7 linked regions of the Homo sapiens genome follow. The protein of the gene in region 6 interacts with the protein of the main gene of each other region in a pairwise test. Each region holds a gene or a part of one and is shown on either strand. Other genes may lie near its edges. The genes, in order: EPN1, SLC22A2, EPN3, USP13, KIR3DL3, LAPTM5 and TOM1L2.

Region 1 (3,812 bases), on a different chromosome or scaffold from region 6:
TGGCAACTTTGGGAATAAATGGCAATTCCCACGGGCTTGGCACTCCCAGATTCCCATCTGTGATTTCGTGTGTCCCCCAGAGCCCCTTCATCCAGGGACCCAGGGCTCAGGTCACATCTCTTTCTCGGGGGTGGCTGGCAACCAGCCCCTCTGTCTCAGAAGCCCTGATTTCCCTGACCCTCCCAGGTCAAGGGATGGCTGGGTTGAGGGTGGACTGTGCGAGGCCTGGCGGAGCTGTAGCCCACACAGGTCCAGGTGGTCGGGAGGCCACTCATGGCCAGACGCTTCCGGTGCAGGAGGCCTTGCTCTTGTGTTGAGGGGACACCAGGATGAGGTCAGAGAGTGCACTGGGGTTCAGGGAGGAGAAGAATCCTGAGAGATGGCACATGTGCAACACAGGTCACCGTCGCCATCGCCCGGGCCCACCGCAAGCATCACTAATCCATCCCTGCACTCCTGGAAAGCCGGGTCAGCCTCTGCCGGCTGAGCTGAGTGGACCACCAGGCGCCTCCTGGTTGTCCTCTGTGTGCTGTTTTCCTCTGTGTGCTCTTGTCCTGGGCTGGACCACACCTGGTGAGACTATCCGGGAGAATCCTCGGGCCGCCTTGTGAGGGGGGTGTTGCTGTCATCTCCAGGGCTAGGTGACAGCTTGTTGCAGGCCCCACAGCCAGGGCCTCAGGGATGGGGATCTGGCCATGTCTGTTTTAAGCCGAACAGGCTGTTCTTCCATGTGGAGTCTCCCTCCGTGATCCCCTGGGGTCAAGTCCTGACGGCTGGGTTCGCTCCCTCAGTGACTCCGACAGCTCTTGTCTCAGAGGTGCTGGGGTGAAGGCTGTGTGGGGCCAGGCCCCTGGGGTCAGACTTCTTGCCCCTTCTGCCCGGGGGACGCTCTGGGCTCAGGGTGGGGCCAGACAGCTACATCACAGGGACACTTGTTATGGGTCGGGGTCCAGGGAGCACCCAGCCAGTGGAGTGTTGGAGGCCACTGAGAGGGACATGACTGCGGTGTCCGAGCAGCGTCGTGGCCACCCTGTGTGCCCACTCCCTGGTGGACAGACCTACGTCACCTGGGGATTGCAGAGCAAAAGGAGTGCTGTTGGGGTGATGTGAGGTTGGGGTTCTGTTTCTTGCTGTGAATTGGGTCATGACCTGTGTCGGAGCGTTCTCTGGCCTCCACTTGCCCCTGCAGACCAGGGTGTCTGGAGGGTTGTCGGGGGCTTGATGGAGGAATTGCTGACCACACCATGCAGGAAGAGGTGGGTCCCAGGGACACAGGAACTTTGGGGTCAGCCGGTTCCAGATTCAGTTGCAGAGGAGCATCCCCCTTGCTTAGCCAGGGAGGGGAAGCCCTCTTCTCACACCCGGCCTGGGTATGTTGTGGGAGAGTCATTTCCCAGGAGGAAATGGGGACTGTTACCGGGGGAGGGGGTGCTGTCCCCAGGCAGCAGCAAGCGTCCCTTACGCTTGGGCTGTCCGAGACCCTGCTGCTCTAGGCGGTTGTGATGGGGGAGCCCCACAGGGCACAGAGAGCCAGCTGAAGGCGGCAGCTCTGGGTGGGATCACATGGAAAGGGGAGGCGAGCCGAGCCTCCCTCTTGCCAATCTTGGTCTCCCCACAGGGTCATAGCTCCTGGGCCCCTCACTTGTCAGACCCTCCATTCACCAAATTAAGGATAAGTTTCACGATTTCGCACTGCGGAGCCTGCACTCCCTTTCTCTTCAAAAAAGCTGAGGACGAAGATAAAATGATACAGTTGGATTAGTCCAGTGGAGGGGTTAAAGGTGTGAGGCTTTAATTCTCCCCACCATTTCCTCATTTGGCAAAACAGAGAAGACAGGATTGAAAAACAAGACAAAAACCCAGAGGCTTGCACATAAATTTGGGGCTTAACTACAGCATCTTCGGCATCTTCTTTTCCCTACAGTGCGAATTACAAAGTAGCACCACAGATCTCGTGTCTCCTACTTTATTCCTCTTTCTAGAATATTCCAGCCACCAAAGTGCTCAGCAGGAGCTGCTGTGTAGGAGTCCCCCATGAGGCCCAAGCACCTGAGCTTAGTGACATACACGGTTGAACGCTGGGAGAATGCTGGGAGCCTGCTGTTGTCCCCGATTGAGGGCTCCCCCCACTGTGTGTGTATCACTCTTTCTACAGCAGATGTGTCTCTCTCCCCACAGTGGGATGGCGAGCTTGTTAAATGGCCGTGAGGAAGACTTTATTCAGGACCATCGAGACAGGTACAGGTACCATCAGTGGATGGAAAATCACTAAGAGCAAACCTCAGGGGTCCGGGGGTTTTCGGCTAAACCCACCTAGCAGGATTCTTGCTGAAGGCAGGCCAGGGTGATCAGAGGTCACCTGGGGATGGTGGAGGCTGAAGAAGCCTATCAGATGTGAGGGTGGCGGGGGTTGGGGGGGATGGCGGCGGGGTTCATTTGCTGAAAGGATTTTACAAGGGCATGCACGGATGGGCCTAGGAGGAGGTTCAGATCCCTCAGGTTTGGCTAAGCAAGAGTCATGGTGGTGCTCCCGGCTGGCTCTCAGGAGCAGATGTGCTTCTGACCCGACGTCTTCCCCCAGAGAGGGCTGAAGTGGAAAAAACCCCAGAATTTCTCCCTGGGACAGGTGAAGCGATGGGGCGTGGGACATTCCTGGGTCTCGACTCTGTTCAGGGCCTAGGGGTTGGGTGGGGAAGGCACTTGAGGGAACCTTCCTGGAGCCCGTAGGAGCTTCATCCGAGCTCCTGGGTCACCCCGCCCACCAGAGTCCAGGCCCACCAGAGTCCCCTGCCACCTGTGCTCACCCTAGCCTTACCCCTCGCTCTACTCCCGCCCTCGCCCTATCCTCGCTCCTCGCCCTACGCTTGCCCCTCGCTCTGGAGCTGCGATGCCAGCCTCAGGGCTTTCAGTCCTGCCTTGATCTTTTTTTATACTGAAACTCAATTTTACACACACAAACCCACTCCCAGCCAGCCTCTGCCTTTTGCCTTTTCCTCATGTTCTCATTGAATAGGAAGAAATGCCCTTTTTTTTCCCCCCTAGAAGGAGTCTTGCTCTGTTGCCAGGCTGGAGTGCAGTGGCACGATCTCGGCTCACCGCAACCTCCACCTCCCGGGTTCAAGCGATTCTCCTGCCTCAGCCTCTCGAGTAGCTGGGATTACAGGTGCCCACCACCACGCCCAGCTAATTTTTTTTTGTATTTTTAGTACAGACGGGGTTTCACCATGTTAGGATGGTCTCGATCTCCTGACCTCGTGATCCGCCTGCCTCGGCCTCCCAAAGTGCTGGGATTACAGGCGTGAGCCACTGTAGCGGCCCCCACCCCATTTCATTTTTTATTTTTTTATTATACTTTAAGTTCTAGGGTACCTATGCACAACGCGCAGGTTTGTTACATATATATACATGTGCCATGTTGGTGTGCTGCACGCATTAACTCGTCATTTACATTAGGTATATCTCCTAATGCCTTCCCTCCCGCCTCCCCCAGGCCCTTAGTTTGTGCTGCTCTGCGTTGGTTTTCTGCGTGTGCTAAAAGGGGAGGGAGAGTTTCTGTGCCCATTCCCAGGCACCTTCTTGCAGCCGCAGGCATCTCCCCCACACGTGCTTCTAGCTTCCCGGGTGTGGCGTGAGCCATTGCGTCCGGCCAGAAATGTTTTATTTCTTGAGAACTTGTCTGTCTCTGTGATGACTGTGGGTTGTCCAGCTCATCCCTCAAGCGCCATCCTGCCAGGCCCTTCACTGTGGTGAGAAACCGGCCTACTCACATCACAGGTGCCCCTGGAGTTTCTCAAACTGCAGCCCAAGGATTG
Region 2 (4,319 bases), on a different chromosome or scaffold from region 6:
TATCCTAAGGCTCACGGCCAACACCCCTATAACAAAAGACAGGTTAACAAGAGAAAAGCATGACAAATTTATTTGATCACGTTTTACATGACACAGGAGCCTTCATTCAGAATGAAGACCCACAGATACAGGGAAAACTGGATGGCAGTATAGAACTGTAGTTGGACAAAAAGGGCAGCAGCCCATGTTCGCAGGCTGAGGGGAAAACCCAGCAAGGCCTGTCTGTTCAGATCCGTCTTGGCCCCTCTGTGCAGCACTCCTTCCTCCAGGCACCGGGGACAAGACTCCTCTGGAATGCGGGTCTGGATTTCTTTACGGCCCACTGTTACACAGAAAGGCAGCGGGGAAGTTACAGTGGTATTTCTAGGCTTTCTGGCTGGCTTTGGGGAGAAAAGAGTCTGGTTTCCACGAGCTGCTTTGAGGAAGAAGGATTCTCAGTTCTATGGCTTGCCCCGGGGGAGAATGATGGGTGAGAGAAGAGACAGGAGGGCAGGAGAAGGTCAGAGAGAGAGACTTTGCTTCTGAGGCCTCCACCTTGGGGCATGGATTTCTGAGCCCCAACAGACCTTGACAGAAAAATCTAGGACACAAAGATAGTGGCTTGGACACACCTGCCTGCATTTACACTTGACCTGTCTGCGACGTAAACACTTTCCTCTTTCCCTCCAGATGGGTTAAGGGGAAGGACACTTCAGGGTTGAAACGCAGGAATACCAGATTGGAGCAAACACTTTTTAAAAGCAGAGTTATAAAATCTGGACAACATCAAAACAAGCAGCCCCAGCATGCATCCCGACGGCTCTTGTTGTTGGTTGGAGAATGAGCCCAGCAGTCAGGCTTGCAACCCACTTCGAATCTGGACCAGGGTTCTGACACGGATCCTGGTTCACATCACGCTGGGCCTTGTGGCCAAACACGTGTGTTTTCTCCATAGGGCCTTGAAGAAAAGCTGGCGGTGCGCATGAGATAGGAGTATATTAAGTTCCTGGCTGCTCGGGGCACTACGGGAAGATTACTGGGCTGTGATATGGGCCAGCACTCAGATTCCCTGCGGTGGGACACAGAGGGCGGGTTGTTTGTGCTGCTGGCGTGGAGCACCGACAAGCCTGTGGAGAACCAGTTATAATAAACACGACAGGCATCCTGGGAGTGAGCTCAGGGCATTTGGGAAGTGCAGAAGGACATGCACCCCCGCTGGAGGGGTGCACCTTTGAAGTCAGCTGGACCAAGGAAAGGCCCTGCCCTGAAGGCTGGTCACTTGCAGAGGTAAACTCCCCTCTTTGACTTCTGGCCAGGGTTTGTGCTGAGCTGGCTGCAGCCGCTCTCAGCCTCGCTCCGGGCACGTCGGGCAGCCTCGGGCCCTCCTGCCTGCAGGATCATGCCCACCACCGTGGACGATGTCCTGGAGCATGGAGGGGAGTTTCACTTTTTCCAGAAGCAAATGTTTTTCCTCTTGGCTCTGCTCTCGGCTACCTTCGCGCCCATCTACGTGGGCATCGTCTTCCTGGGCTTCACCCCTGACCACCGCTGCCGGAGCCCCGGAGTGGCCGAGCTGAGTCTGCGCTGCGGCTGGAGTCCTGCAGAGGAACTGAACTACACGGTGCCGGGCCCAGGACCTGCGGGCGAAGCCTCCCCAAGACAGTGTAGGCGCTACGAGGTGGACTGGAACCAGAGCACCTTCGACTGCGTGGACCCCCTGGCCAGCCTGGACACCAACAGGAGCCGCCTGCCACTGGGCCCCTGCCGGGACGGCTGGGTGTACGAGACGCCTGGCTCGTCCATCGTCACCGAGGTAAGAGAGTGAGCTCAGGGCTCAGATGGAGAAGCAAATGGTGGAGATTTTCTCAAGGAAGCAAGCAGGGAAGGCCCGGCTCTTATAAACCCTGCCTGGACATCTCTTTGGCCTGCATGTATCTTACAAAATCCTAGTTTCCAAATGAGAACATGCAGCTTCTAATTTGTCTGGAGAATAACTGGATTAGTTAAAACGTCCTCAGATGCTGACAATAATGATTCTAGTTTGTGCATGTCCCAGCAATAAGGAACAGGCCAAAGCATATTAGGACTCCTGGAAATGTTGCCAAGATAGGGATATTGTGGATCCTCCTCTTTTTCTGGAAGCCTTACCTCCCCCTCTATTCCTCCATCCCGCAGATGCCCACACACACCTGAAAGCCCGTGGAACTCAACTGAACTGTGCCTGACTGTGTGATAGGATGTGCTTTTCTCTCGATACCTATTTTTTCTCTTTAATTTCCTCAAAGTGTTCATATAAAATCATTTGGGGCTGGAGATCATGCTATGGCACTATTATTTTGTTAAAAACTACAGATGACATCAAAAGCTATTTGTGAAGCCTGATTCCAATAAATATAATAGAAAAAAAGACAAAAAATGGAGCTTGCTTTTATTGAAAGCAAAGCAAAATAGGGGAATTAAGTTACCTGAAAATACTGAGAGAGCCAGTTGCCTAGTTTAATTTAAAATGACTGCTTGGACAATGGGAAGATATTCTGTGTGAACAGATGGGTAGGTAGAGTCTAATTTGAAGGGTCTAAAGTGGTCAGATATTTACAGGAAATGTGGCAGCTCATGGGCTTCACACCACAAACTCTCCGAGGCTCTCTCACATGGCCAATCTCATTGCTTCCTACAGAGATGAGGAAACTGAGGCCCCAAGCAGAGAAGGTTTTTCCCCAGGCCACACAGTGAATAACTTAGCAGGGTTAGCCCTAAAAGATGGGTCTCCTGACCTGGTCCAGCACCTGCTCCACCCGACCACCTCCTCTTATTCCAAATAAGAGCAAATGCAGCAGCCTTCAGCAGTCACTCCTAATCCCCTTTTATTAAACAGACAGCAGGGAGATGCTAAATGGCCCAACCTCCTGGTGCCTGCATTGTATCACGTCCACACACCTATCTGCATGTGCATTGAAATTAGAAAGGAAAAAATAAATTTGTCTATAAGTAATTACCCAGTTTCAGCTGATTTAGCCAATGCTGTAGTTTTAGCTTCATGACAAATTGCCAGATGGAAGGGCAAGCCTTTTGGTTATGTAAAGAAAACTGAGGCTGGGCACAGTGGCTCACGCCTATAATGCCAGCATTTTGGGAGGCTGAGGTGTGAGGATCACATGAGCCCAGGAGGTCGAGGCTGCAGTGAGCCATGATCACCACTGTACTCCAGCCTGGGTGACAGAGCAAGACCCTGTCTCACAAAAAAAAAAAAAAAAGAGAGAGAGAGAGAAGAAGAAGAAAATTGGCATGATCAAGAAACAATGGCTTATTGCCACTTAACTATACAGTTCAATTCAAGGAATATTTAATGAGTACCCTAGCTGAGTTATGTCCAACAGGATTCTAACAGGATTTCATTTCCTTTCTCTCCCAACTTGGAACACTTCTCCCCTGCTGGCAGTTTAACCTGGTATGTGCCAACTCCTGGATGTTGGACCTATTCCAGTCATCAGTGAATGTAGGATTCTTTATTGGCTCTATGAGTATCGGCTACATAGCAGACAGGTAGGTTGAATCACCTGTGGTGGAATTTAAACAATCCCAAAGGTTTGGAGAACACTTGGATGCACCTGCCCCTGCTTGAATCCCATCCTTTCCCAAGCACACAGACCACAATCTCCTGGCCTTCATGCTGGTGTTTTTACAATCTTAAATTTCTTCTGCTGCTTGGATAACCATGACCAATGTCTTTATTTTCAAATTCTCTGGGGTCATAGACAGATATTTCAACATTACACAGCAAATCTTCCATGGGGGCTATGCAGAAGCTTCAAGTCGGAAGGGAGAGTAACAGATGATCTCATCCCTTTTGTAATTCCCAATTCATTTTTTGGCCTCATCACCATCCACCTGGCCATCAGCCTTCAGGGCCTCTGAGCTCAATCCTATCCTCTGCTTGTCTCGCATATGCTGGGAGCCCCCAGCACCAGGCCCAATGTAGAATCTCCCTAATACCCGTGGGATTGCAAGAGTCCTGAATTGGGTTCCTGGGGCCATATATGACCATATATGTGGAAGCCATAACTTAAAGAAAGGGAAACAGGGTCTGCCTACAACACGAGGGGTAAATGTCCACCTCTGCAATATCATTGTCCCTGGAGAGATGACGAGAGGCCTCTCTGATGAGTCTTGTCTTCAGCAAGCTAGTAGTCAGTGTTTGTATGGATCAAGCTATTGCTATGTCTCTTACTTATCCAGCATTTTGGAATCCCACACTCACTGTGCTGCAAGTTTCCTACAACATGCAGCTTTGCTCTCTTGATGACCAATGAGACATTTTTAGAAGTCCTCAAAAGGAAAAG
Region 3 (4,421 bases), on a different chromosome or scaffold from region 6:
GGAAAATCAGGGGAGACTTCCTAGAGGAGGTGGTGACAGAGCTGAGATCCAAGATCACAAGGGAAGAGTAAGGAGGAGTGAACCAGCAAGTCAGGGGAGGGCGGCTCAGAAGAAATGCTATGACCTGGGCCAGAAGGCAAGAGAGCAAGTATCGTTTGAGGAAGACTGCCCCTCAGAGTTCTGGCCACTGCCAACACTCCTGCATGCCACCCCCACGTACACATGGAAGTGTTGAGGCCAGAGAGGGGATGGGACCTGCCTGCATCATATGGCACGTAAGTGGCAGAGCCTGGACTACCATCCAGGACTCCAGAAGACTAATCCAATTCTTATTGTCAGTGTTACCCAGTTTGGTCATTATTTCATCGGATTGCTTTACTGTCTCAGTCCCACCTTCTCAGCTAGAATGGAAGCTCCCTGAGAGTAGGAACAGTCTGGGTTCTCCAAAGCCCCAAAACGCTGGACACATAGTGGACCTCTGGTACCCCAGCAGGGAGAAGAGCTGGGCCAGCCCAATTCCCCCCAGTAGCCACAGGTCCAGGCTATCTGCTGAATACAACTCCAGGCCCAAGGTCCTCCCAAAGGCCCTTTCAGAAACCAAAAGAGGAATTCCCTGACCACCACCATTCCTCCCACACTAGCACTGGTGTGTGCATGCACACACACACTGTCTGGGCCTGCAGAGCCTCCACTTCACCCGTGAACTGTCCCCCACCCACCAAACACCTTTCGGCTCCACCCTCCATCCCAGCCCGTGCCCCAACTGGTCCCCAGGCTGCCAGAAGCAGGAATCTGAAGGAGACTGTCCTCTCGCACCCGATTCCACGCTCCTTCCACCCCAGCCCCGCCAGTGCTGGGCTCAGTTCAAAGCAGCCCCACGCTTTGAAAACATGCCTTGGCAGGTTTTGTTGGGGGCCCAGAGAATAAGATACCGTGGGAGTGGGCGAGGTGGAGAGTGCCTGGCCCACAGCGCAGCCTACCTTTTGTCTGCTATCTCTTTCCTTCCAGCGGGTCGTGGGCCTTCTGTGGGAATGCCACGGCCACAACTTGTTTAACTCCTGCCCTCCCCCTTGCTAGTGACTCAGACCTGCCTTCACCTCCCCAACCCGTGGCTGGGGGTGGCAGAGTCAAGATGGGAAATAATGTGCACCAAAGCCCGCCCAGCACACGCCCCTACCGGCTGGCCGCTGGAACTAGCAGAACCAGTCGGGCACTGTGACTGCACCAGAGCCCTACCTGGACCTGGCTGCCCTGGCCCTCCGGCCTGGCCTGTGTGGGGGCACCAGCCTCTGGGAGGGGACTCTCGGTGTGGGCCCAGCGGCCCTGCCTGGACCTTTCTCACAGAAGGTGGGCATTCTCTGCACACCCCTGCAGGGGCTGGGGGGAAGGGCGGGGCCAGAAACATGGGGAGGCACCTTGATTTTCCTTCTCTGGAGTTTGAGGGGACAAGGTGAGGCTGCCCAAGCACAGAGAAGGGAGGAGGAAAGGAAGAAGCCTGCCCAAGCGCAGAGAAGGGAGGAGGAAAGGAAGAAGCCTGCCCAAGCGCAGAGAAGGGAGGAGGAAAGGAAGGAACGCGGGAACGCGGGAGGGAGCAGCTGGGAGCGCTGCCAGCAGTGTTACAAGCAAAGGGTTTTATCGAACACGATATGCCCAGAAATAAAAGGGAGTGTAACAGAAACCCAGCGGCCGATAAGGCGGTGGCGGTAGCAGCAGCAGCCCTGGGCAGCTGGGTATGGAATTACTGCAGTGACCTTGAGCCAGACCCTGTCAGGTGGAGGGAAGGGCACAGAGAGGGCAGGGCCTGAGAATTCAGAGATGACGAGAGGGCAGAGGAGGGAGGAAGCTGAGGGGATGGGAGCAGGGCCAGCAGGCGGTGGGATGGGCCACGGGGCACGGAGTATCAGCTCTCTCCTGCATACAGGGTCCCAAGGAGAACTGCGCAGTAGGGAGGGGCTGCTCTTCTCAGGGCCTGCAGGATGGGGGGATCTGGAGAGTTTCCCAAAAGTCAGGACCGAAAAATGCAGATCGCTCATCCCCAGCAAGGGTTTCGGAGAGATGGAGAGAACCCAGATCTGTCCAGTCACACGTGCATGAGTTTGCGTAAAGTCTGTGCACCCACCAGCCCAGCCCACACCCTCTTCCCGTCCTCTGCTAAGGTGGGCTCCAGCCCCTGCCTCCAAGTCAGATCCAGCCTGAGCAGTGGGGAATGACAGTGCCCTTCTTGATGCTGTAAGGGACAGGGGGTGAGCTTGAACTCTAAGCTTCTGGCCACTGTAATAGCTGCATCCCGGGAGCACAGAAGATGGGGGAGGGGGGACTGCCCTGAGGCTAGAGGTGTGCATGAGGGGCTGAAGAAGAGGAAACAGCAGAGATGTGCAGAAGGAGTCTGTGGGGAATGCCACCAAAGATGCTAAGATGCCACCAAAGATGCTAAGTCCCAGGATGGTTGGGGAGGGGGCCCTGAGTCCCTTTTTGGGGGCGGCAGGGAGGGAGGGGTGGCAGGAAAGAAGCCTTTAGGTCCTCTACAGCTCAGCCTTCTCCCTCGCACCTGGAAAAGAGACTAAGCCCCAGAACCACTGTTTGCTCCCCACCAACCCCCGCCTTCCATGCCGCCACTGCCAGGGAGGGGGCCAGGGAGGAAGCTTACCTCCAGTGCGGGCTCCCTCGGCCCCAGCCCCAGCCCGAGTAGCCTCTGCGGTGACCCTCCGACCTGTGCAGCAGCGGGACGGCACAGCCTCGGGAGCGTCTCCAGAGCCATCCACCATGGACCCTCGTCCCAGAGACCCACCTGCTCCCAGGAGGTGCAGACCCCTCAGAGGGGCAGCGGCAGGGTCCCTGGAATGGGTAGCAGCTCTTCCCGCGTGCGTTTGCCTCCTAGCCAGCGCCAGGCAGCACTCCGAGGAAAGTTGCTCAGCTGGCCCGGCAGGTCTGCCTCAGCAGTAACAGGACACAGGAGGAAGTGCAGGGCAGGTTAACCCCTTCCTGCTGGCCAGGCAAGTGGTGCATTGAGAGGTGGGGGGCCTGCCTGTTGGCCGCCCCCAGGAAGTGCACATCTGGAGCCAGTGCTGGCGACCTGATCCCCTCTGCTTTGAGTTAACCCTTCCCCTGCCTCTTCAACAGGAAAGGAGGGGGGCTCCAACACCCCCACCACACCCCTCCCCTTCCTCCTCTGGGCCGGGAGGACATTAAAGGAGAGGGCAGGGACATTCCCTGGGGCTGGCTCTTTGGTGGAGCCCCCGTCTTCTCGTCTTCTTGGGGAGGAGAGCATCAGGACTCCAGCACAGCCCCCTCCCTGCCTTTCCCACACGGAGTCAGATCCTTCTGTCCATCCTCCCCCTCCTGCATCTCAGCTGGAGGATGCCTGAGGCCCACTTAAGGATGCCCACCCACCCAAAAACCAAAGTTGTTCTTCAAACTCTGGGAGCCTGGAGTGCTCTTCACACAGGGAGCCCAGCCCCAAATGGTTATGACTGACAGAAGACAATGAGGGGCCTGAGTTTGAGCTGACAATACCTTTTTTTCTGAGAGCCATTTCTAGCCTGTTTCATGTTCCCCTGAGCAAGGGAGGTAGCATGAAGATCAGCAGCTGTTTTTAAGGCAGAAAGATGGCTCAAGGCCAGATAGTTTGAGATGAGGAGGGGGATAAGGCAGACTAGACCCCGAAATAACAAGGTGATGTGGCCTCTAGAGCTGAAGAGGTGTGGTGAGCATGATCTTCAGGGACTGAATTGGGGCCCTGGGACCCAGCTGAAGAGGGGAGATGGCAGGGAGCCAGGTCCCATGGGTCTAGTTCTACTCCTCATCTCACACTTTGTCATACTTGGTGATGACACTTCGGGAAGACCTGGCTCCAGGAAGCACGACCCTGAAAGTGTGGGCCAAGGAAGCCAGAGGCAGGGACTACCAGAGGTGACACACTGTCCTGTCACCTGACTCCTTGTCTTGCTACCAATCTGCTCCTCTGCTTGGCATCCCACACATCACTTCCCCAGCTATGTCTGTCTGTCCTCCTGCAGGAGGGCTCTGGCAGCTGGCAGGAGGGGATCTGAGGGCAGGTGGAACATGGGAGGACCTGGATCAGGAGCTGACCTAGCCAAGATCCATCATGCAAGACACAGAGGCACACGGAAGTAGTAGAAACTTGAAGGTTCTTTATTGATTTATTTATTAACCCGTTTTCCAGAAGGTTGCTTGGGCCCGAGAGTCACCTGCAGAGGCGCAAAGCCTCCTCGACATTCTTTATGGGGCTGAGCTCATCAGCCAGGACCATCAGGTCAGTCACCAGGGTGTCCAGCAGCCCACGGACCTGGAAGAACGGGACAACATCACAGGCAGAGTTTACTCTGTGGGAAGCACCTATATATGAACTATGCTGTGAGAGAATAGCTGGAGAGGGGAAAGAAACCAGTTGTTTGTGAAAG
Region 4 (3,812 bases), on a different chromosome or scaffold from region 6:
CTCTGAAATAGCAACTCCAGAGACTCTAGAATTTGGTACGGACCAGTAGGAAAATTATGGAAATTATAGAATGCTATCATTCCACTTTTCATCACGTTGGAAACTCTAATCTAATCCCAGGTTGCAACTAAAATGCTGAAATAACCAAAATGGAAAGGATAGTCTTTCATAATGTTGTATAAAGTTTCTTTGCATCTAAAATCCTTAGTGTGTCCAAGATCACACTGTTGGTCACATCAGACAAGCAATGAAGGCAAGTCAGAAGGTGATACACCAAAAAAAGGCAGAGATGAGACTCTGGCCCCAGAAAAACAAGGAAACGGAGGCAGATAAAGAGCTCAGAGATGGGAAAATCACAGACAAATTTGGGGCACTTGACATGACTCCAAAGAGTTATCATGTGAGATGGTAAAAAGAGATTAGCTATTTTTACTAAAAATAAACACCATACCTTTTGGGGAAAGGGCTGCTGAGAAACAGAGAATTTACCTACCTTTGACAAAGTACAATATTATGCTGCTGTGGGCATCTAGCATTACACCAGCAAATGTCCCAAACCCAAGTGAATTCTTGACAGCACTTAAAGGCATAACTCAGCCCTTTTTACTCCTTAAAAATCTAAGTGGGGAACTAATCTTCTCGAAGGTTCCTGAGTCATAGTTTTGTTAAAATATTTACTTGCTTTTTTCAGATATGCTTAATATCAACTGTTCAGACTTTAAAAACCAACTTGTCACAGATTTTCTAGTGGACTCACTTTTCTAGTAAAAGTCTCACACTCTCAGTCAGTCTCACACACATTCACACAATCGTATTATGAATTTTAATGTGACAAATTAAAAATATCTTTCATTGCAGAGGCTCTATTATGGACAGAGCATAATATCTACATGGATACATCAGAAATTATTGTATGTCATGAAAAAAATTATGTCACAAATAAAGCCCCACCCAACTGCTGATTTTCTATATGAAACACAAGTGGGCTTTTCATTTGTTGTGGGTAAGGCCACACCACTGGCCACATTATTTGGTTTCTCCAGAGGCCACTATCACTGACCCCCAAAGCAAAATAGAGGGCTGGGGGCACATCCCCATTTTTGATGTGCTGATGGCAGATCCTCCACCAGCAATATGAATACTTTTTTTGTTTTTAAATATCATCATCTTTTTGAACATTTATAAAAACTATCTACAATATAATAGTGTATCATCACTAATAGAAATTTCTTCTCAGTTCTATTTCAGAAGGTGTCAACTGATCGTGCTCTTTAAATAAACGATAAATACCCCATATATTCCTTCATGTCTAGTTGTTTCAACTTCTTCTTCTTCTTTTTTTTTTTGGCAAATTAAAAAGGCGTATGGCTTCTTTTCGCCAATTTTTATATTTGAGGTTTAGCTTGGTATCCTGCGGTAAAAGTACATGTAGCCCAGGTCTTTAGGGGGCCTTTCTGAGGCACAAACTTTGTGGTCATTGTAAATCACCCATCTGAAAATAAGACAGAAGCATTTGATGGATTTAAGTCAGTTCCAGGAAACTTTACACAAAGAAGTCACTAAATCATATGGCGCACAACACTTAACCATGATGTTTTAAGGTACTATACTCAAGTTCGTTGTATAAAAAGGGACAGAATGCTGGTAGGGAATCACAACTGCTTTTTTTTTTTTTTTTTAAGAGACAAGGCCTCATTCTATTCCCCAGGCTGGAGTAAGGTAGCACAATCTGAAGCTTCGAACTCCTGGGCTCAAGGGATCCTCTCGCTTCAGCCTCTGGAGTAGCTGGGAACACAGGCACATGCCATCATACCCAGCTACAACTGCTTTTTGATTCTTAAGCTCCATCAAAAAGTAGTTACTAAAATGTATCAGGAACCTCCAAACATTTTAACCTTTGATCCCATAACTCCCTTTATAGAAATCCATAGATAGCCTGAGAAATTGAGTCAAAGAATTATGTACAACAATGCTTATTTCAGTCTTAGTATAAAACTAGCTTAAAACCAGAATTTTAAAAAAATCCATGCAGTGAACTATTATAGAACTATTAAAATTTCTTCAAAGAATATTTGGCAAAGTGAGAAAATAACCATGATATAATATGAAATGGGAAATTACTGGTTAAAAAATTGTATGCACTCTGCACATACTTTAAGCTTTTAGTTAAGTTGTAAATACGTGTGTTTATTTATATGTAGTATGTGTGCATATAGACATATATATACTTTCTTCCAGTGAGACAATAAAACAAAGAAAAGTATATCAAAATGTAGACAATGGTTATTGTTAGGCTTCCAGGGTACATATTCTTTGTATATTTTTATATTTATAAATTATTTACTATGAATTTTATTGCTTTTAAAATTATAATTAAGCTATTTTTCTTTTAAAAAGCATTTTTATTTTATTTTCTTTGACTTCATTCCATAAAGTGTTTTTTAAAGCGCTATCGTGTTTGTAATAAAAACAATTCACCACAAAGATTAAGTCCCAGCCGGGTGCGGTGACTCACACCTGTAATCTCAGCACTTTGGGAGGCCAAGGCGGGTGGATCACTTGAGGTCAGGAGTTTGGGACCAGCCTGACCAACATAGTGAAACCCCATCTCTACTAAAAATACAAAACTAGCCAGTCATGATAGCACATGCCTGTAATCCCAGCTACTTGGGAGACTGAGGCAGGAGAATTGCTTGAATTTGGGAGGCGGAGGTTGTAATGAGCTGAGATTGTGCCATTGCACTCCAGCCTGGGCAATAAGAGTGAAACTCCATCTCAAAAAAAAGAGATAAATTCCTGTGCTCAACTATTTTACCAAGTTAAGAAGACAAAACTAAAAAGACACACCACAGAAGAACACAATGGAGTCCAGGTGGGAAATGGCCACTCCTGCAGTGGGAGCCATGGAGCAAGAGGCCACCCTCAGGCATTTCTCCAGCATCCACATGGCCTGAGCACTGCCCTCAAGCAGAAGTGCCAACCCACAGGCTACTCAGTTTGGAGTTGCAGGAAGGGCACCAGTAGGTCCTGTAGGGATCCAGCCCAGGGAGAAGGTTCTGAAGAAAGCAGCAGCCTTTCATTCCACAACTGTCTCATTTCCGGTTCACTACACACTTAACAATTCTACTTAAGAAGGCTGAGAAGCCAACTGCAAGGCTGTAGTAAGGCAAAGCACTGAAGGTTTAGAGCTGCCAGATAAAACACAGGTTACCCAGTTACATCTGAGTATCAGGTAAGCAATAAGAAATTTCAGTAGAAGCATGCCCCATATAATATTTGGGACATAGAATATTTGAAATTTATTTATACTAAAAAATTATTCATTATTTATCTGAAATTCAAATTTAATAGGGCATCCTGGTTTTTCCTGTCTTGTTTCCTTTTGTTGGCTAAATATGGCAATCCTAGGGAGGTTCCAATTACAGCATACATTCTGCTGCAGGATGCATCTTTATTTTGGGAGGTCACCTTGGTATGATAGTTGAAAGTGGCTTTGAATATCAGCTCTCACACAGCTACTTACTAGCTAAGGTCAAGCTATTCAGCCTCCCTGAGTCTCGGTGTCTTGATGTGCAAAAGGGCGTTAACAGTATACCCTTTACAAGACCAATGTGAGAACCAAATAAGATAACATACAATGTACCTAGGAGAGTGCCTGGCATATAGTAGGTACTCAATAAATCACAGCTAACATTTACCTTCTAAAAATGACTCACCTTCCTTCCTTTTTGATATGGCAAATGTAATGACCACTCATTGTGGATGTTCCCATGTGACTGATGAATGCAAATAGCTCATATGCTGTGAAAGAG
Region 5 (3,812 bases), on a different chromosome or scaffold from region 6:
GAAATAGATGCTGGTGCCATGCTTCCAGTACAGCCTGCAGAACTGTGAGGCAAACACATTTCTTGTCTTTAGAAGTTACCCAGGCTCAAGTGTTCCTTTAGAGCAACAAAAATGGACTAAGACAGCAACGTCCTGAGATCAGGAGGAACATCCCAGAACAGCCTGGGCTGTCTTCCTGTTCTTCCTGGAGGAGGACGTCATGCAGTGCTTTAGCTGAGTGCTTCCTGTGGCTCCAGGGTACAAAACCCAGGCTGGGCTGCTTTTTGATTTCCCCCAGATACACTGCATATGGGGTGACTCCACATGTCTCGAGCAGCTTTTCTGAGCCTTGAGGGACTGGCTCACATTGAAATGTAGGTTTCTGTTGTCACTCGCTGCTTATCTGTTAGTAATGAACCTGCCTGTGTAATGTGTTCTCTGTGTGTTCTGTCTCCCTGGAGTGACGGTGAGTGATAGGAATTGGTATAGGCCCAGGTGCATTCCAGGAGGTGTTTAGAATCTTCTCTGGGAAGACTGGATTGGGATTGATACACAGCGAATGTGCTTTACAGTTTCTACCACCACAACCCTCTTGACTCAAAAAAATTACATTCTCCAAGAAAAGAAAGAAAAAATGAAATCAAGATAAAAAAAGTGAAGTAGAACTGACTTAAATCAAACAGCCATGAAATAATGATGTAGCCCAGGAACAACATGCTACTTTTTGTGATCTGCTGAGACATATATTAGGCTGCTATTCCACCCGAGAAGCACGGGGAAGGACCGCCCTCTCCGTCGTTTATTGTTTCAATACAGCCTGTCCTTCTGTGAGTTAGTACGAAATGTGACCAGGGGCTAGTGCTGGCACTGGTCTCTGAGTCCAAGATCTGAGCTCACTCCAAAGAGTATTAGTGTTTACCTCCCCATGATCTATCTGTATCTCCATAGGTGATTGGAAGTAGAGATGAATTGGGGGATTTGGGTGAAGGGGCAAGTTTTATGCCATGAACAGAGCACGTTCTCTATTCCAGGACCTGTGCTGGTGGGTTCAGGAGGCTTTCACATTTTCCATATGATCCCAAGCTCACAGAAAGCCAAATAAGGAAGAGGTTTAACCTGATTGTTTAATGGATAAGATAAAGGGTCAAAGAATTAAACACAGAGAAATAGAAAAATGATGGTTGGTATCCAGTTGCCTTTGTAATTTCTGTGTGTCATAATTATGTATGTTTTATTTTTATTTTTTGAGACAGAGTCCCCCTGTGTCAGGCTGGAGTGCAGTGATGCGATCTCAGTTCAACCTCTGCCTCCAGGGTTGAAGCCATTCTTCTGCTTCAGCCTCCCCAGTCGCTGGGATTACAGGCAGGTGCCAATGCACCAGGCTAATTTTTGTATTTTTAGTACAGACGGGGTTTCACCATGTTGGCCAGGCTGGTCTCAAACTCCTACCCTTAAGTGATCTACCCGCCTTGGCCTCCCAAAGTGTTGGGTTACAGGTGTGAGCCCCCATCCACAGTCTTGTATATTATATTATACTAGGTCCCTTCATTTGCACCACCCCTCATGTGTCTATCGCTCCTCTGCCAGGTATTGATTTAGATGTAGAAAAAAAACACATCTCAGAAAGAAATTAATGAAACAAGGATTAAACTACTAGGAAAAATCAAACCCAGCAAGCCCTCCCTGCAAATGATTCTACCTCACAAGCATAGCTTATATCCATCTTTCATTCATTTAGTGTGTAAATCAACCCTACGTTTCACCAGTGGGGCGGGAATTGCCTTTTCCACGGTCTCCTAGATTCCAGTTACGCACCTGGGCCTCCCTTATTTTCATGTCGGTCACTGTTAATCAGGTAGGGATTCCTAGTTAGCTCTGAGTTGAATCCAAGGGCTGTGAGTATCAAAAACATGCTCCTTGTTCCTCCTTAGTTTCCTGTGTACCCAGTGTGCTCTCCATCTCTCTACAGTTGTCTTGTCATTCTCCCCATCTCATTCCCAGCATTTGAGGCAGAGCCTCTTCCTTGAACTAAGAATGTTTCCACCTTTGTGCCTTCACGGCTGAGAGCTCAGTGTGGAAAATCCTTCCGCCAATCTTCCAAGGGTTGAATCCATTTTTTCCATTAAGGTCACAAATATTATCTGATCAGTGAGACCTTCTCTGTCACCTGAAATTATATACTCAGCATTATCTATTACTTATTTTAAATCCTGGCTGGGCGCAGTAGCTCTCGCCTGTAATCTTTGCACTTAGGGACGCTAAGGCGGTGGGATCACTTGAGATTGGGAGTTTGAGACAGCCTGCACAACATGGTGAAACCTCATTTCTACTAAAAAAATATACCAAAAAAATTAGCCGAGTGTGGTGGCGCACAGCTGTAATCCCAGCTACTCGGTAGGCTGAGGCAGGAGAATTGCATGAACCCAGGAGGCAGAGGTTGCAATGAGCTGAGATTGTGCTACTGCACTCCAGCCTGTGGAACAGAGAGAGACTCTACTCAAAAAAAAAAAGAAAACAAAAAACACACACACACACAAAAAACCCCAGATTTGGTGCACAGATGCTTCCCAATGGATCATTCATTTATTGGTACCCTTGTGCATTCATTCTCTGCCCTCGCATTTACCCATCTGCAATATCAGCGTCCCAAGAGCAGAGGCCAAATGCATCCTGTTTACCATTTGTGGAAGGCAGGAGAATGCTGCCCCACCCCCAAAATGTCCCTGTCTTAGCCTCCATAGCTTGTGAATATGTTATTTTACAGGAAAGGAGGAATGAAGATTGCAGATGGCATTACGGTTGCTAATCAGCTGAACTTAAAAAGAGGGTACGCTGGATGATTTTAGGGAGATTGAGATGGATTATCTTGGTGACCCCAATAGAATCCCAAAGTCCTTAAAAGATGAGGAAGAAGGCAGAGCAGGATTCAGAGAAAAAGGTGTGGGTAAAGAAGAAGAGTCTGAATGATGCCATGTGAGACGTGACCAGCCTTTGTGGGCTTTGAGGAAGGAGGAAGGAGGAAGGGGACCAGGGGCCCAGGAACGTGGGAGCCTCTAGGAGCTGGGAAACGTTAAGGAGCAGATTCTTGCTTGGAACCTTAAAAAGAAATCCAGCCTTACTGTCCCTTTGATATCAGCCCAGTGAAATGCAGTTCATACTTCTGAGTTACAGCACTGTGAGATAATTAAGAAAAACATGTTTTCATCCACGAAGCTTGTGGAAATTTGTTATGGCAACAATAGGAAAAGATTCCACACTGCACAGCCTGAGCATGGGGCATTGGCTGAACGAGTGAGTGAGTGGAAGTGTCGTGTGCATAAATAAGCTAAATTCTCTCTTACTGCACGTCTCTTGCTCTGCTGAGTCAACCAGGGTTGCATCTGGTACACTGCTGATACGAATGTAAATTAGTACAGCCATTACAGAGGAGAAGAGTATGGAAGTTCCTCAAAAAATAAAATGAGGTCGGGCACAGTGGTTCATGCCTGTAATCCCAGCACATTGGGAGGCCGAGGTGGGTAGGTCACTTGAGGTCAGGAGTTGAAGAGCAGCCTGGCCAATATAGCGAAACTCTGTCTCTACTAAAAATATAAAAATTAGCCGAGTGTGGTGGTGGGAGCCAGTAACCCAGCTACTTGGGAGGCTGAGGCTGGGGAATCTCTTGAATCCTGGAGGTGGAGGTTGCAGTGAGCCCAGATGGCGCCACTGCACTCCAGCCTGGGCAACAAGAGTGAAACAGTCTAAAAAAAACAAAAACAAAAACAAAAACCATAAAACAAAATGTAAAAAGACACTTCCAGAGGATCTAGCAATTCCATGACTGGGTGTAAACC
Region 6 (3,812 bases):
CGTTGCTGGTTGTACTGCTGTGAACACACTCCAGTGCTTCACCATCACTCAGACCTGGGACCTGAAGCTGGACCCTATCCTCTGGGCCTGACCACCCCAGAGAAGAATGAGACCATTCCCCTCCTGCCTTCTCATCACCAAACCTCTATTAACATAATCTCAGGTACATTTTGATGCCTGAATTACATAAAACTGTAACACAGGCAAAACAAGACTCCTGCCCCTGAGGCCCAGAGAGAAGTGACTTGCTGAAGACCAACCACGCAGCTAGTGACAGTGGGGCTTGGATTCAAACGCAGGCCAGTCCAAATCTAATTCCAGACAGCTGGAATTAGACATCTGAACGCAGGTGGCCTTTACGGATTCACATGCCCTAAATGGGCTGTCTCGGAGGATCCCAAGTAAAGTCAGAGGAGCTGGCATGGGAAAGCAAGAGAAAGGAGCTAAAAGCAGGAGAGGAGGCATGGAGGACACATGTCCCTGCCTTCTAACAGCTTGGCATGGGCAGGCCTGGGCCCAGCACAGCCTCACCACCCCTCCCAGAGCCGCAGGGCAGGGATCCACTCACCTTGAAGATAAGGACAGTGATGAAGGCGATGGAAAAGATGATCATCATCTTGATGAACTGGTTATGAGGCATATCCTCCTGGCTGGGGAGGTAATTCTGCAACAGATTTGGGGGCCACATCAATGTCTCTGGACATAAGGAATTCCAACAGCACCCACACATCCGGGAATAATGATCCCACCCTCCACACACACACGAGCACAGCGTGGCACAGCCGTCACCTTGGTCGACCGCCACAGCAGCCTTAGGAAGCAGGTGCTACCTTCAGCCCCATCCCACTGACGGGCAAACCAAGAAAAGCCAAGTGGCTACTATCTCCAGATCTGCTTCCCAGGCTGGCGCACCGGCCCATCCCCAGCTGGCAGGTGTCAGCTGCCCATGGGCCACACCTATGCTCTTCTCTACAAGATCATTTTGGCTGACAGGGACCACCTAATCCACTAATACCTGGGAGGTTACATTCCCTCCCCTAGGGGCAGCTTGAAACCAATGACTGATGCAGGGGAACTCGCCCTAGGTGAGACTGCCTCTGTGGTCATTTGCAAATATTACCACACATTCTTTGAGACGCCTCCCTTCTAAAGGTGGTGTTTATTTCCTCTCCCCTTGAGTGTGGGCTGGACTTAGCAACGCACTTCTAACTAACAGAATGTGGCAGAAGTGATAGAAGTCTTAAAAGACACTGCCTTTCCTCCTTGCTTATCTCTTACATCACTCCCGCAGGGGAAGCCAGCAGCCATGTCAGGAGAGCACTCAAGCAGCACTACTACAAGTCCACAGGATGAGGAATTAGGCAAAGAGCCCACGCCCTGTGAGTGAGCCACCAGGAGTTCATCCTTCAGATCTAATCAAGCCCTCAGTTGTCCACAGCCCCAGGTACCATCTCTGGTGCAGCCCCACCAGAGTCCCTGAGTCAGAAGAACCCAGCTAAGCCACTCCCAAGCTCCTGATCCTCAGAAGCTGTGTGAAATAATAAATGTTTATTGCTTTAAGCCATGATGCTTAGAGATAATTCATTAGACAACAATAAAAACTGATATTATGTCTGTGTTGCAATTCACATGCCAAAGCCCTCTCTGGGATCATGCAGGGCTGCTCCTACAGCCACATCTTTGCTTCTTTGCTTGGCTTCCTCCTTTTCTCGAACCTGCCTTCCTCACTCCTGACAAGTTTCTTCCTGAGAGGGCTCCCTCAATAAATCACCAGCACAAGAATCTTCCTCCCAAGCTCCAACTCCAGGGAACCTGGCCTAAACCACAGACACACAGAGACGTGAAGTAACCTGTTCAAGGCCACACAGCCAGCAAATGGGCATGGTTCCCTGCCCCAGACTCACCATGTGGTTCATGGACTTGAAGTTGAGATAGGTGGGCACTTCCATGTAGGAGCTGCAGAGGGTCAGGATGCTCAGGCAGAAGTCCAGCAGCTGCAGCGTCATCAGGGGGAACTTGGAGGAGCTCTGGGGAGGACAAATACAAGGAGGAGGAATGAGGAGCAGCAATTAAAGTCCCAGTTACTGAGCGGCACATAGTAGGCCCTCACTTGAGAGACCGTCTCAGCTACAGACATCAGTGACTCTCGTCCCCTGTGCACAGAGAGACATGAACACACAGATGTTCATACCAAGAGCTGGTGGCAGACCCAAGACTAGAACCAAGGTCTCCAGACTCCCGGGCCAGGGCCCTTCCATGATGTAGCCCCCCGGTCTCTTCAAGGACAACAGTTGGGGAGAGTGAGAAAAGCAGGTTTGGGAGACTGTGTCCTTGACTGGCAGCAGCCCTCAAGCCACCCCACAGTGGGCGCTCACTGGCATGAATCATCCTTCTCTTCCTTTCTTCAACTTGGTTCCAAAGAAGAAATAATACTGGGGGCTGGGGGCTAAAAAGCGCACATGTCCTTTCCTCAGGTGTCAATTCACTCCCAGCAGCACTGACTGAGTGCTGACCATGGGCTGCACCCCCAATGTGTGTGTTCCTCATGTAACCCTCATAAGGCAGGCTGATGAGATGTGATTGCAGGTACATTCCACAGAGGAAGAAACTTGGGGCAATGTGGAGGGACTCAGAGACTGGGTCAAGACACCAGCCAGGAAGAGGGCTCCTACCCTCCCCAGCCTGAGCACAGGGCCCGTGTCTGGTCCCCTCCCATCTCCCATGCCAGACCTGGGCTCTGCTGTCCGGTGAGAGGTGGGGGCTGGGTACTCACAGCACGGCTCCGGGAGGCCAACTTGAGGTAGGCGGGCAGCTCAATGTAGGAGCCCAGCAGGGTGAGCAGGCACAGGAGATAGTCCATGATTTGCAGGGACAGGAAGGGCAGCAGGTACTTCTCCCGGTTCTGAAAGGTAGGCCCAGCACCGTCAAGTGTCCCCTGCATGCAGCCAACACTCCGCCACCCAGCCTGATATCCTCATGCATCCCCTTCCCACCCTCTCCCAAACCTTCCCTGCCCTCCTCAGTTGAGGTCACCTCCCTCTGAGTGACACTCTGGGGACAGGGAGTGGATAAGACCCAGGCCCTGAATGAGAGGAGTCTTGGTGTCCCAGGAGACGTAAGGGAACCATCCCCATCTATCAGGGCTCAAAGAGCAGGATTTGACTCAATTTGCTCACAAGAACCCAGCAAGGAAGGGCTTTGTGCACTTTTTACAGAGGAGAGGGGACCAGAGAGGACTTGCTGGAGGTGGGGACACCAGGGCTAGATCGGGGAAGGAGACTAGGAGTGAACAGGAGGGAGGGGCGGGGCACTGGAGGCAGAAAGACCAACATGAGTGAAGGCCCGGAGGCAGCAGAGAGCCCCTCCCCCCCACCCCCCACTCCCCACCACGCCCCGCATACAATTGGACCTTCCTCCACCAGCCACTCCCAGGGGTCCAAAGTCACAGTAAGAGGCCCTGCCAGGAAGAGGCTGAAGTCCCTCTTCTTCAATTGAAAGCAAGTGACCACCATGACCAGTATTCATTCATATGCTCTCACAGCTGGGGACAAAATCACTGCAACAGTGGTTTCCTGGTGTCTCATGTGGTCGTCTAAAATCACTCAGGAGGCAACCAGAACAATCTTGACTGATCTCAGAGTCTTCAGGGACCACCTGCTCCATTTCTCCATTTCTCTAGCTGAACCCTTTGAGTTTCTGCACAAGCACCCACAGCCACCCTGCACAAGGCAAACGGCCTCCCCAGGCAGCATGGGTTCCAAGACAGAGTGAGTGTTAGCAAGGGGAGTGGGTGCTGGCATTTGAGGCAGGGT
Region 7 (3,812 bases), on a different chromosome or scaffold from region 6:
TTCAAGGGAAGCCAGGTCCCCTGGAGTGTGGCACATATTCAGCTGGATCTGCTGAGCTGAGGCAAGCCTGGGCTGATGCAGGTGTGTCAGGAGTGAGGTCTGGGAACTAGGGAGAGGCCACTCAGGACTCCTCACTGGGGCTGGGCCAAGGGTACTTTTCTCAGCTTCAAGAGCAGGCTGGTGTAGTTACATGGAGACAAGTTGTTTCCCGGTCTATTTCCTGCAAAAAGCTGCAAGCTCCAGGGACCACAGCTCATGCACCTCTGTGCCCCTAGGACTGTGTTTTGTGTCAGGCCTGGAACAGGTCTCCACCCACCCTCACCCCCATAAGAGCCGATGGCTTTGGAGTAGGAAGGGGGCACAATAAGCAGCAACTTGGGACCAGGACAGGGCCTTCACAGGCGGCAAGCATGTGCCAGCAGCAGGGTAGAAGGTGTAGCACTTGGGGACCAAGACTGACAACGGAGGGCCAGACACAAATGGCAGTATCAGCAGCAGCAGCAGGTGTATCATGAGAAACTCATGCCAGGTTGCTAAATCAGTCTGGCTCCTGACCTGTTCCCTCAAGCATCTTGCCTCCCATTGAAAAGTGTGTGGGGCCTTGCAGTTCACAGCATCCTTCTTCCACCCTCCAGAAGGTCACTGCTTCTAAGGGCAGTACCACTGACATTTTCTGCAAATGCCAGGGTCATCTGAGGCTGGGTGTGGTGGAGATCTGGGCACTGGCTCTGGACCTGGCTGCCCTGGGAAACAGGCCTGAGGTGGGGGCCTTGACCCTGGTTTCAGGGGTAGACTGCAGGCCGCCCACTCCTGGACCCCATTCTGCCATGCCCCCAGATCCATGGGCTGTCCAGAGGCGGGGAGGCCAGTTTGCAATGGCAAACCACAATATGCCTGGGAATCCTCAGTGTTAGGGAAAAGCATGGGAGCATCACACTTCATCTCAGTCTCAGGACACCTTGGGGGTGAGGTGCCACTACAAGGGCTCCTGTGCACAGTCAAGGTTGAACAGGCCCTCCTGCAAAATGTGATGTTGAGGGACCAAAATACAGAAATAGTACAAGCTCAACTACATTTAAAATAAACCTACAAAAAAGTCAGAAAGAAAATACATCAAAGCACCTACAGTGGTTATTTACAGATGCTTGGGTCAAAGAAAGTTATTTTCTTTTCTGTGCTTTCTTTTTCTTTCTGTGAGCATGTATTCTACAACTGGCATTTTATAATCAGGAAAAAAATGTTATTAAGGAAAATAAAAAAGACAGACAGTGGTACTGGCCTCTGCCTGTCCGTAGGCAACGTGAGGCTGCATGTGTGCTCACATGGACTATCAACAACAGGGCCACTGGACCTGTCCCGCCTTGCCGCTGTGTCCCCGGGTGGGATCCTCCAACAGTGTACGGTGGAAGAGCTGCCACCACAGGCCAAGTGCTTCTGAAAGATGACTCACCTGCAGCAACTCCAGATCAGATGAATCCTCCTGTCCAGGGACCATTTCTGTTAACATCTCAGACATGACTTTTGTGTTTCCTCGAACGACGTCCAGTTCACTCCGCAGCCTGGCAATCTGGTGGGGGCCACGAGGAAGGAAAGCAGGAAGGAAAGGTCAGTCAGCCTGCACTTGCAATATCAGAATCAGCTTGCTCCTAGTCTAGTGACAATCCTTCTCACTGGGAGATCTGGGTTGCCTTTCTGAGTGCACACTGCAGAGGCCACCTTCTCATCTCCCTCTGGCCTGCCTGTCAGCTCTGAGAGAGCTGAATGGGCCCTGCCACCAACAGTCTGTTGTGCCTCTCTGACTGTGACACGAAAGCAGTACCACGTAGTGAAGGGCTCCGTGTCAGGAGTGCACCAAGCTGGCTCTCCGTCTCGGCTCTCCCACCACGGGAACTTGAGTAGAAGCTGAACCTCTCAGGGCTTCCGTTCCTGCTCTTTAAAATCCAAGTGCAGGAGGGCAGGAGCTCTGAGATCCCTTCAGAGCTGAGATCCTATTCTACAAAGCTCTGAGTTATAGACTCTGCTCCTAGGAGTTTTACATCTAAACACTAGGATCCCTCTGAGAGGCTGGGCAGTGTCAATAGCACTTTTCTGCTGCGGCAAGAATGAGAGAACAGGGGAAGACGACAGGGGAGACACCTTCCCCACCCAGCTCCCTACATGGTAACACAGCCCCTTGAAAAATACCCAAGTTGCCCATCAGCGATCCCAAAGCCTGGACCTGGGCCAAGGCCCAAGGCTCCTCTCCAGCAACAGAGACATCATACACTTTCTCCCCTTGCCCTCAGTCCTGTGCCTCAGATCTGCCCCTTCACTCCCTCAACCCCCTCGAAGGATCTGCAGAAACCACAGGGACCTTCCTTGCCCACAGTGAAATATCATAGAAGAATCTGCATAGAGGTGGCTACTGGTCCCATCACTCAGTGACAAGAGACCAAATAACGCTGGACAGAGGTCAAGAACTGCACAGGACACTGGAGGGAGCCCTGGAAGACTCAGCAGCAACATCCAGAGCCGGACCTGAGCCTCTCTGAGCCTTCGTTTCCTCACCTACAGAAAGGTGGCACTAACCTCACCAGGCTGCTGTGAGTTTCCCATGCGGCGCCTGGCATGCAGGTATGCTCTCTACTACACACATACGGCCCTTGTTCCTGCTCAAAGGTCCAGAGAGAGGAACTGTAATGTCATTCTTCCTGCACTGTGACCCAGCTTAAGTGACAACTTCTCTCCCCAGTGAAGCCTTTTCTGACTCTCCCCACCCCATCCTGAGGTAGAAGCAACCACTCCCGCCTCCTCAGGTTCCCACTCGCTGTGCCATCTTCCACTATTGCAGCTGTAGCAGCCTCTCCTGTGTGGGTGGGCTCTCTCAGCAGACCTTTAGCTTCTTAGGGCAGGAACTCAGCTGGGTTGAGCTTTATACCCTCAGCACAGAGACAGGGACAGGAGACCTCAATCAATGGTCTACCAGGGAGATGGTCTGGGTCCTGAGAGGCTCTTGTTAGCCTCTGGCTCTGCCTGGTGGATGATCCAGGGGTTTTCTTCAAAGTCTTGGTAGAGAGAAGAGGTTTCTGGCTAGGAAGGCCCAGGAAGGCTATGGGCAGCCACCCAGTAGACTCTGAAGCCCTGGGTCCTCTTGGCCAGGCTGGGTGCTGACCTGCCTACCTCTGCTTGCATTCTGCTCTCCAAGGGGCAACATGCCTCAGGGCTCCTGTGCTACCTATGCCCAGACCCTGCAGACCCAGCATCTTCTGGCTACTAGGAGGGCCTTCCCAAGCACCTCCCACACTTTGAGTCGGTGAAGGGGCTCAGTAACTGTCCAACTTCAAACATTTTCTGCCTTCCCTCAGAGCAGGAAGGGCACAGTTCTGCCCATAGAAGCAGGGCCAAAAGCCAGAGACCTTCTTTCCCACAGCACTTGGGTAGCCACAATGAGGACCTCTTCCATCTGCCTGTCAAGCCCACAGCTGCCTGGTGGGGTAACAAATCACTTGTTCTACTGATGGGAGACCGGGGTTAAATGTCCTGACTGAAGCCTAGAGTGAGCAGCAGAGCTGGGGGCTCACACCCAGGCCCTGGGGGCTTCAAGTTCACTCCTCCTGCTCTCACCGTACTCCCTGCTCAGAGCTAGCAGGGAAGTGTGAGGAACACGACACAACACTGCCATCCCTACACACACATTGCTATCCCTACACACACATTGCTTGACCCCTCTGCTTCAGTGAGGTTCCACAGTCATGACATTGTCGCAAATAGTAAATAAGGATTTGGTAAATATAAACATTGGAGAGTTTTTTTTTCCCCCAAGTCTGACCAAT

Evidence for each region.
Region 1: the proteins of LAPTM5 (region 6) and EPN1 interact in a two-hybrid assay, tested with the Homo sapiens proteins (one large-scale study listed by BioGRID and IntAct).
Region 2: the proteins of LAPTM5 (region 6) and SLC22A2 interact in a protein complementation assay, tested with the Homo sapiens proteins (one large-scale study listed by BioGRID).
Region 3: the proteins of LAPTM5 (region 6) and EPN3 interact in a two-hybrid assay, tested with the Homo sapiens proteins (one large-scale study listed by BioGRID and IntAct).
Region 4: the proteins of LAPTM5 (region 6) and USP13 interact in a two-hybrid assay, tested with the Homo sapiens proteins (one large-scale study listed by BioGRID and IntAct).
Region 5: the proteins of LAPTM5 (region 6) and KIR3DL3 interact in a two-hybrid assay, tested with the Homo sapiens proteins (one large-scale study listed by BioGRID).
Region 7: the proteins of LAPTM5 (region 6) and TOM1L2 interact in a two-hybrid assay, tested with the Homo sapiens proteins (one large-scale study listed by BioGRID and IntAct).

What each region holds. Positions count from the first base shown.
Region 1 is NC_000019.10:55,695,726-55,699,537, forward strand, and holds part of EPN1 (epsin-1), read left to right. Parts: 3' UTR 1-3,812. UniProt on the Homo sapiens protein: Binds to membranes enriched in phosphatidylinositol 4,5-bisphosphate (PtdIns(4,5)P2). Modifies membrane curvature and facilitates the formation of clathrin-coated invaginations. Regulates receptor-mediated endocytosis.
Region 2 is NC_000006.12:160,255,817-160,260,135, reverse strand, and holds the start of SLC22A2 (solute carrier family 22 member 2), read left to right. Parts: upstream 1-1,314; 5' UTR 1,315-1,378; coding exon 1,379-1,792; intron 1,793-3,418; coding exon 3,419-3,522; intron 3,523-4,319. UniProt on the Homo sapiens protein: Electrogenic voltage-dependent transporter that mediates the transport of a variety of organic cations such as endogenous bioactive amines, cationic drugs and xenobiotics. Functions as a Na(+)-independent, bidirectional uniporter.
Region 3 is NC_000017.11:50,531,212-50,535,632, reverse strand, and holds the start of EPN3 (epsin-3), read right to left. Parts: upstream 2,899-4,421; 5' UTR 2,648-2,898; intron 1-2,647.
Region 4 is NC_000003.12:179,781,728-179,785,539, reverse strand, and holds part of USP13 (ubiquitin carboxyl-terminal hydrolase 13), read right to left. Parts: intron 3,802-3,812; coding exon 3,717-3,801; intron 1,493-3,716; coding exon 1,399-1,492; 3' UTR 1-1,398. UniProt on the Homo sapiens protein: Deubiquitinase that mediates deubiquitination of target proteins such as BECN1, MITF, SKP2 and USP10 and is involved in various processes such as autophagy, endoplasmic reticulum-associated degradation (ERAD), cell cycle progression or DNA damage response.
Region 5 is NC_000019.10:54,730,936-54,734,747, reverse strand, and holds part of KIR3DL3 (killer cell immunoglobulin-like receptor 3DL3 precursor), read right to left. Parts: intron 1-3,812.
Region 6 is NC_000001.11:30,737,036-30,740,847, forward strand, and holds part of LAPTM5 (lysosomal-associated transmembrane protein 5), read right to left. Parts: intron 2,903-3,812; coding exon 2,774-2,902; intron 2,198-2,773; exon of another isoform or gene 2,121-2,197; intron 2,028-2,120; coding exon 1,905-2,027; intron 665-1,904; coding exon 569-664; intron 1-568. UniProt on the Homo sapiens protein: May have a special functional role during embryogenesis and in adult hematopoietic cells.
Region 7 is NC_000017.11:17,878,177-17,881,988, forward strand, and holds part of TOM1L2 (TOM1-like protein 2), read right to left. Parts: intron 1,568-3,812; coding exon 1,451-1,567; intron 1-1,450. UniProt on the Homo sapiens protein: Acts as a MYO6/Myosin VI adapter protein that targets myosin VI to endocytic structures. May also play a role in recruiting clathrin to endosomes. May regulate growth factor-induced mitogenic signaling.